Homo sapiens: one gene and its partner. The protein of the gene in region 2 interacts with the protein of the main gene of each other region in a pairwise test. Each region holds a gene or a part of one and is shown on either strand. Other genes may lie near its edges.

What was found. Proteins that work in one complex are often made in the same cells at the same time.
Region 1: the proteins of USP42 (region 2) and CPEB2 interact in a two-hybrid assay, tested with the Homo sapiens proteins (one large-scale study listed by BioGRID).

Annotation. Positions count from the first base shown.
Region 1 is NC_000004.12:15,047,481-15,051,846, forward strand, and holds part of CPEB2 (cytoplasmic polyadenylation element-binding protein 2), read left to right. Parts: intron 1-4,366. UniProt on the Homo sapiens protein: May play a role in translational regulation of stored mRNAs in transcriptionally inactive haploid spermatids. Binds to poly(U) RNA oligomers. Required for cell cycle progression, specifically for the transition from metaphase to anaphase.
Region 2 is NC_000007.14:6,158,572-6,162,861, forward strand, and holds the end of USP42 (ubiquitin carboxyl-terminal hydrolase 42), read left to right. Parts: intron 1-878; coding exon 879-886; 3' UTR 887-922; intron 923-1,983; coding exon of another isoform or gene 1,984-2,024; 3' UTR 2,025-2,993; downstream 2,994-4,290. UniProt on the Homo sapiens protein: Deubiquitinating enzyme which may play an important role during spermatogenesis.

The sequences.
Region 1 (4,366 bases), on a different chromosome or scaffold from region 2:
TTAAGTTTATTTGTCAGTATTTGGTGGGTTTGGATGAGGTATGGAAATGATATTTAAAATTTTTCCCAGTTTATTACTAGCATTTAGAAATAATTTGGTTTTTGTAAATTGAATTTGCATTTCTTCCCTAGATAAATACAATTATTTCTACTAGTTTGATTTCTTCGAATTTTACATGTACAATTATGTCTATACTAAGTAATTTTATTTTTCTTTGCCAGTGTTCATGACTTTAAATTATTTTTTTCATCTTCTTTGATTTGTTGTACCTCCAGTAGTACAATGCTGAGTAGAAATAGAGTGAACATCCTTCCAAACCTTCAAGAGAAACCATTTGATAATTTATTATTACAGACTTTCACTCTTTTTTTTTTAAATGCTCTTTATTGGATTGAAGAAATTCCCTCCTACTCCTAGTTTTCTGGGAGTTGTGGTTTTTTTTTTTTTAATTATGAATAGCTGTTGAGTTTTATCAGATGCATTTCCTACATTTATGGAAATAATTTTATGGTATTTCTATTTTTGTCTGTTTATGTAGTACAATTAACAGTAATTGGTTTTAAAATGATAAATCAATCTTACGTTCCTGGGGTGAACCCCACTTAATCATGATTTGTTTTCCATTTTTATCTATACTTCTGGATTCATTCTGCCAATATATTTTTTAGGATTTTTGCATTTGTGTTCATGAGGGATATTGGTATATAGTTTCCTTATGTTTTTGTCAGATTTTAGTATTGCACTTGTAAAAAAAAGTTGTGAAGTGCTTCCTCTTTCTTTATTCTCTGGAAGAGTTTGTATAAAATTGCCATTTTTTCTTCTTCAAAAGTCTAGTTCATTTGCCAGTAAAGCCATCTAGGCCTGGATTTTTCTCTGTCGGAAGATTTTTTTATTTTAAGTTATGACTTTCATTTTTTTTTAGCAGACAAAGAACTTTTCAGATTTTTTCTCCCTGTGCCATTTTTGAAAAGCTGCATTTTTCAAGGGATTTGTTTCCTCTAGTTGTTAAATTTATTACCATAAAGTGGCTAATAACATTCTTTTTAATCTTTTAATGTTTGTAAGTTCTGTGTTGATTGATGTCTCTTTTTTGTTACTTTATTTCCTTCATCGTACTTTCTTTGTATTTTATTTGCTGTTCTTTTTCTAGCTTTTTGTGGTAGAAACAAGATGATTTGTTTTAAGCATGTCTTGTTTTCTAATATGCTTTTAAAACTATGAATTTTCCTTTGAGCCTGGCTTTTGCTGCATTCCAGCAAAATGAATTTGTTGTGTTTCATTATCATTCAGTTTTATTCCTTTGAGGTGTAAGAACCTGAAAACATACGTATGGTATCCTTCTTAGAAAGCATGTTTAAAGTATACTACAGTGGTAGATATAACTTATTTAATGGTTCTCCTTTTATTGTCATATTAATTTGGAATATGATAAAAGGATAATTGGCAAGGTAAAAGGTCAGACTTTGTCAATGATATATATTCAGTTAACTCTTCTTTTAAATGAGTATTTAAATCTGTAGCTTTTATGGCTTCTTGAAAAAAAGCAGTCATTATTGTCCAACAGTGAAGATTCTTGTTAGTATGGCTAGTGTGCAAAATGTTCTTAAACTTTTCGTTACATTCTTTGTTTAGCTGAACTTCGTTAATAGATTATAGATGTTTTTAGTTATATGAATACTAAGTAATATTTTATTATAGTAAACAAAAAGTTTGAGTCACTTTTGGGTCACTTTTCTCTTTGGCATTGCTTATAGTGTGATTTGTCACCGCATTCTTTTTTTTTTAATATAGACCCTAAGTATTTGTGATCCATATTTTTTCTCAACTTAAATGTCTGTTAGAAAGACATTTGAATACTTACTGTATTTATGACACTGCTAAGTTTTTATTTGTGTTAGGGCATTTTAAAGTGAAAAACTTTCCAAAGTATTGTACATCTGAAATAAATATAGAATTTGGATTTGTGATTTTTTTCCTTAAAATCGTTTGTATGTATGCTGTTTATCTTATTCCTTTTAAAGTAGAGAATTATTCAATTAAAGTCTAACCTTTAAAAGTTTGACCAGTTATTCACAATTAATATTATTTTTAGTGGACCTTGATGTTCATTTTATTGAGTAAAAATAGTTTCATGTTGAAGAGTTTCCTTTCTATTGATGACAAAAAATACTGACATTTTGTTTTACATTGCTTCCTGTTTCTAATAACAGCGGTATTTGAAAAGTTAAGCAATATTCACAAAGTTACTCAGTGAACATGGGTATTTTTCAGAACATCATATTTAAACAGCATTTGAATCTTTAGAATAATTCATTTCCTATATCAAATATCATCTTTCTCTCTGTTGTTGTGTCTTATAAACTAAATTTTTATGTCAAACATCTAGGTAGCTAGCTCCCTCACTCTGACAGGCATGTGGTCCCTTCCTTCTTGTCCCCAACCCATTCTGTTCAGGCTGTCACATTTCTAATTGTCTTTGTTTGTATCACTTGCATCATGTGTCATATTGTTCAAGATGTTCTATGGCATGTGATTTAATATATAAACAAATACCCAACATAAAACGGTCCGGTCCGTGGCCTGTTTGTTTAATATATAGACAGATACCCAACATAAAACCGATACTGGTCCATGGTCTGTTAGGAACCAGGCCACACAGCAGGAGGTGAGTGGAGGGCAAGTGAGCATTGCTGCCTGCCTGAGCTCCACCTCCTGTCAGATCAGCAGTAGCATTAGATTCTCACAGGAGCGTGAACCCTATTGTGAACTGCATGTGTGAAGGATCTAGGTTGTGTGCTCCTTATGAGAATCTAATGCCTGATGATCTGAGGTGGAACATTTTCATCCCAAAATCATCCCCCTGCTGTGGAAAAATTGTTGTCCACAAAACTGGTCCCTGGTGCCGAAAAGGTTGGGGATCGCTGCTATAGATTATATGCATTGTCTCCTATCCAAAAAAATCCTTCAGTTAATACTGAAAGAAAAACAACTTGTCCATATTCTTACTGTTTTTCCTTCTCTAACATACTTCTCTTCATTTGATCTCTATACGTAATAAAACTCTAAATACATGCAATGTGACTCCTACCCAACTTTCCTGAAACAGCTACCTTCACAGATCATGTATGTCCTCAAAAACAACTGTTTATTAAAAGTAATTATCTTAATATCTCACATTGTTACTTAATTGCTCTTTCGTTCTTTTATTGGTTTTTTGGTGCTTCTATTACCATGATATTTTGGCTGCCCTCCCACTTTTCTTACCACTCCTTTCTCTAACTCCTTGAATGTTCTGCTTCTTCCTTGTAAGTTTCCCAAGGAACTGTCCTCATCATTTCTCGCTGGAGTGTTTATCATTGATGTTATAAAGGACCTTAAACTATAACCCATGGAGTTGACTCCAAATTATTTTCTCAGAAATATGACATTTCTTTTCTCCACTTCCTTTTCAGCTTCCTACTATACATTTGCTTCTGAACATCCTAACAGCATATAAAACTTTACATCTAAAGCTTAAATTATTTTCCTTTCTTATACCAGTTTCTGGTCTTAACTGTCCTTATATCAGTTAATGGTTTTATCATTTTCTAAAGTCTTCCTTAGATCTCTCCTTTTTCATTCTTTCTCCCTATTTTGTTTCCTATCTGCTTGTGACTGCCATCCATCCTTTGTGGATTTTTTGCACAGCTTCTGATCTGCTCATTTTCAACTACCTTATCCATATTGACTAAGTCTCCCTAATGCATAGAAAAAGTTATAATCTTGATTGAATCCCTGTATCTAGTTTATTATCTTCACCACCTACTAAATGTCTCGTTAGCCTGTCATTCAATGCTAAATACTCTAGCCTCAAAGGGCTTTTCTGGCTTTTACTCTCCTTGTTTCCAACATATTTCAGCCAACCTTGACTATTCCTTATTTCTCAAGTAAGTTCAATTTTTCCTACATTTTCTTATGTTTCTCCTTTCACTTGGAAAAAAAGGAAAATTTACTGAAAACCATGTTCCTGTAAATATTTCCACCTATAGATATTCTCCTCTTTCTAATGCCTCACTATGTACTGCTATTTTTCTCTTTTTATCCCAAATGCTATTTAATTTCACTTAGAGATTTAGGAAATCATCCTTTTATTTGACTCCTTTCCTCCAGAATATGTCCTCTGAGCACTTTGAAGCTTTCTTATGGATGTGTACCATGGTTACATATATAGATCTTATCTTTCTAAATGTACATTCCTTGACAGCCAGGGAGTATATCAGGGCATTTAAGTTTTGTGGAGGGATTACCCACAGAGTGGGGATTACTTCAGAGGATTGTGCAGGATGTGCCCTATATAAGGATTACCTCCTGAAATGTGGGCTCAAAT
Region 2 (4,290 bases):
GGGTGAGCCCCATGGGGGACATTTGCCCATGGAGTGCTGGGGAAACAGCCGGAGATGAGGACAGGCACCAGCACTGCCGGTGAGGACGGGTTGCCTGCGGGCCTTGTAGACGTTCTGGACATTTCAGAATTGGTTTTGCGTTCCCATTTCAGCGAATCGGGGAAGGAGATTCGTGAGGGCTGCTTGGTACCCGAGGATCCGAGGATGCAGTGGATGGGCTCATTCTGAGTGTGGTGCAGGCTCCCAGGATCATGGGCTTCCAGCTGGGGCTACTGGGAGACAGTGATGGCCCCCGAGGCAGCTGGTCCAGCGGGAGGGAGGTTGAACGTGATCTTGTTTGCCTCGTGTCTCGGGTGCTGTGGTCAGGCGTTGTCTGTGTGGTGGCCCTGTGTTTCCGTCCCCGTCCCACTGCACCGATGACAGGGTTTGCAGCTGGCGCTTCTGCTGCGAGCAGACTGAGGAGCCTTTCTTGTCCTTCTGAGAAGGCCGCTGCCCGGCCCCGCCTCACCCAGCGTCCTGTGGTCCTGCGGGTCCCCCTCTACCCTGGACTTCGGCCCCTTGTCTTTCTCTTTCAAACTCCTCCTCTGGCTCTGTTCCGCCCAGTTCAGTTCTTGGGCCTGATATCTGTTCTAACATCAGGCTGCGTGTGGGTTGGATGGAGCCCTCAGTCATCACGTAAACCCTTTGACATCAGTAAAACCCTGGGAGCAGCCGCTGAGCGCTGGGACATCCCTGCTCACCTCACTGGGGAGTGGCCTCAGGCGCTCACAGGGAACCGCAGTGACTCTGACCATAGCCACTTAACGCACACACACAGCAGAGGCCCTGGCGATTTTGCAACCATCATTAAAATCTCTTTCCTGACCTTTGCTTTCTAGGTGATTGAAAACTCAGCCTCAAAACAAAAAATTCACTAGTTATGGTAAGCTGTTTTCCTGTCTGTTTCCTCATTGTTTGTGGTGGCGCTGAGGGGACGCAGGCAGAGGAGTTTTAATTCTGCGGCTCTGCCTGGGGGCTGGGCTCATAGGAGTTGGCAGAGCCATGGAGAGGCCCCGGCAGGTTCCCAGCCAGCCCAGACCCAGGCCACGCGCTTGGGGACAGACCTAGACCCTCCACCTCATCACGTTTGCATTACTGGCTGGGGAAGACCCGCATCCTTCACGCAGGCAGAGTCGCCCTGTTCCCTTGTGCCTCACTTGGGAAAAGCCAACCCGGCTCACAGCGGCAGAGCCCACGGGCCTTTGATAAACATCTGGGAAGGGAGAGGCCCGGTCCCCAGCACAGGCACCTCACTCAGGAGAGCGGAGCCTTGCTCCCTCGTCCGTCCCGTCCCCTGTGCTGCTGTCTGCGCCCCGAGGTGGCACTGAGCTGGAGCCAGCACCCCCCCAGCAGCCACCGTACAAAACCATAGGAAGGTGGCCCAGGGCCGGGCGGCAGATCAGGACCTCGGAGCTGTGGGGCTTTGTTGGATCACTTCACACAGCGGTCCTGGGAGAGTCACTGGTTTTATACCTGACCCTTGTGGAGCTAGAGGGGACAGTGAACCATTTTTCCCTTGAAAGGAAACTTTGTCCAAATGTGTCTGTCACATGTAGTCAGCAAGAGGAATTTAAAATGAATTGCCAAGTGAAGAGTCTGTGGATTAATTGGCCGTTAATTAACAGGCTTTATCAATGTGTCCTCAAGGGAGAGGCCCAACCCTAATTAAGGAGCTAAACTTCCTGAGTGAGGGGCTGTGAGGATGGAGGTGGAGGAGGCATCTGGGGCGGGTGGTGGCCGGGCCCAGCAGATGGCGCCTCCCTGGCTGAGCTGCCCGCACCGCCAGTTCCCTCATTTCCACTCAGGAAGGCAGAGAAGGCAGAGTGATCTCCTCAAGGAAGAGCTTCCCCAGCCTTCGGGAGCAGCTGGCAGGGCGTCCGGGAATAAGCCCTACACGCCGCCGCCTGCCTCCAACTCACTAACCCTGCGCCTCTTGTCTTTCAGATTCAACGCGTTCAACAGAAGCCATCCCCAGCCCAGCTTAAATTATAAAGATAGACAATAACTCTGTTCCAATCTGCGTGGTGCTTCTTTAGTAAATACTGTACAGATTTTACCATGGAGAACTTTTTTTTTAGTTTTTACCTTTTCTTAATTACCCTTATTCCGAATGGACGAACACTTTCTACCACTGCTGACCATTGTAAAATACCGTGTATATAAATCCCATTGAAATAATGCCCTGGAATAGAACATCTCAAATGCTGCTTAATTACAGACTCAGGTCGATTACTTGTATTTCATGTAATGTTCCTCCAAGTTAGACATCTGGTGCAAGACCAACCGGGAGACCATGGAATTGTCAAAAGTACAAACTGACAGTGTGTATATTTAATTTAAAGACTTATTTAAAAACTCACAAGCTCTCACCTAGACTTTGGAGAGCAGTCTGTTTTCTGTAATGTCTGATACTAGAAACTAATTTGCTTATTTTAGTTGTATTCAAGATTTGAAGATGTATTTTATAGACAAGTTCTGTTTTTGAACTTTGTGGAACTGTTCCAATCAATCAATTTCCCAGTTATGATGAGTATTTACATTATGAATGTATAACCCAGACATGATTTGTAAAGCCGACAGTATGTTTCTATTACACAACACTTTTTGATACAGCGTCTCTTGTCTTCACTGATACTGGAGTCTCCGTTGTCTGCTTGGTCCCTTCGAGTTTCTAGTTACAGACACAATCATACTGTGATTTTATTTTTAATATGGATATGCTATCAAACTGTGATACACTTATAATTCACTGGTCCTGCATCAGGAGATGGAGTGGGGAAAACTGTATTTAATACAGTTTGTATCTGAATAATCTGTATGGTTTATACAGTTTGTGTTGTTCAGAGATGTTTAAAGTTTGATCTTTGTTTTTCTAAAGATTAAAAAAGCACTTGCCCCACTGTAAATATACAGCATGTAAAATTTCTATAGTATATAAATGGCAGCAAATCACACACTTGGCGTCTTTTTACTGTTGTTTTCCCCATTTGCTTCCAGACTCCTTCCTGTCATCATCTGAATTCACTTTCTTAAAACCTTCAAGTAAGTGCTCCTGCCGAAGTCGGCACCTTCGGCCAGGCCATCCCACCTCGGACGGGCAAAGGAAAATTGGAGGGGTGTTTGCTGGACCCAACAATATCTGTTTTAAAGAACCAAGTCTTAGGCTTGTTTTAACAATACATGTGATTTTTATTTAGTGAACACAGTATCTGCAAGAGCTCTGACAGCCATCCACCCTCCAATCTTACTTCACTTTACAACCAAGTATCAATAGAGGCTGTTCCTTCATGCGAGCTGTGGGAGTATATACATCATTGAATAACAGACACTCCAGAAATCAACAGATGTACATTATTTACATATTACTATATTTACCGCAAATAGAAATATTTTCTAAGAAAAAAAGTCAATTTGTGGTTTCTGGTCTACCACAGACCTAACTTCTCAGCAAAGCATATCTATGTAGATATCTGCGTTTGTAACTTTAAAAATAGGCATTGCTTTCTATGAAGCACTAAGTGCTGCTCCATCTATAAATAGCTCCTATTTTCAGTTTGGTACCACATTAAACTGCCCCAAAATGTTCTGTGACCCCAAAGACACAAAGTTGCTGCTTATCTGGGTCCAGGGTCAGTACAATTAAACTCAAATATGAACCAGGGCGGCCAGCAAGACAGGCTGGAAGGGCTGTGGCAGTCGCCGCCGCCTCCCCGCGGGGCTCCCCTCACTGCCTCCTGGCCTCTGTCTCTGGAAAAAAGTATCTTTGGCCAGAGTTGGGACTAACAATTCAAGCCCTGCGCTCAGACGTCAGGGTGGGGAGGAGGAGGACTGTGATTGTGACGCGGCCTGCCCAGGGTGAGGGACAAAAAACAGATGTGTCCTGTTTCAGGGCCGTCCTGGTAGCGGCTGGCCCTGCGCAGTCACTGACCCAGAGTTTTCTGGACCAGGCCTGCCTCAAGGATCAGCAGGCATGATGGTCGCACAGCCTTCATGCTAATACTGTCCTAACACAGCCTGGAGCTAGGCGATTTCCTTTGACCACAAAGTACCTGGAGTCTAACTCAGCACCACAGCCTCTGCATGGCTCCCAGGTGCCCACCACCTGGCGAAGCTCATTCACAGATGACAGCAAAGGGGGAGCTTGATCATCTGGCGACTCCTTCCTGCTGCTTCTCCCAACACCCAAAACAGAAAGCTCTGCATCCCCAGGTCACACCTGGGTTGGTCAGAAGAAGGAAACAGCTTGTCCGA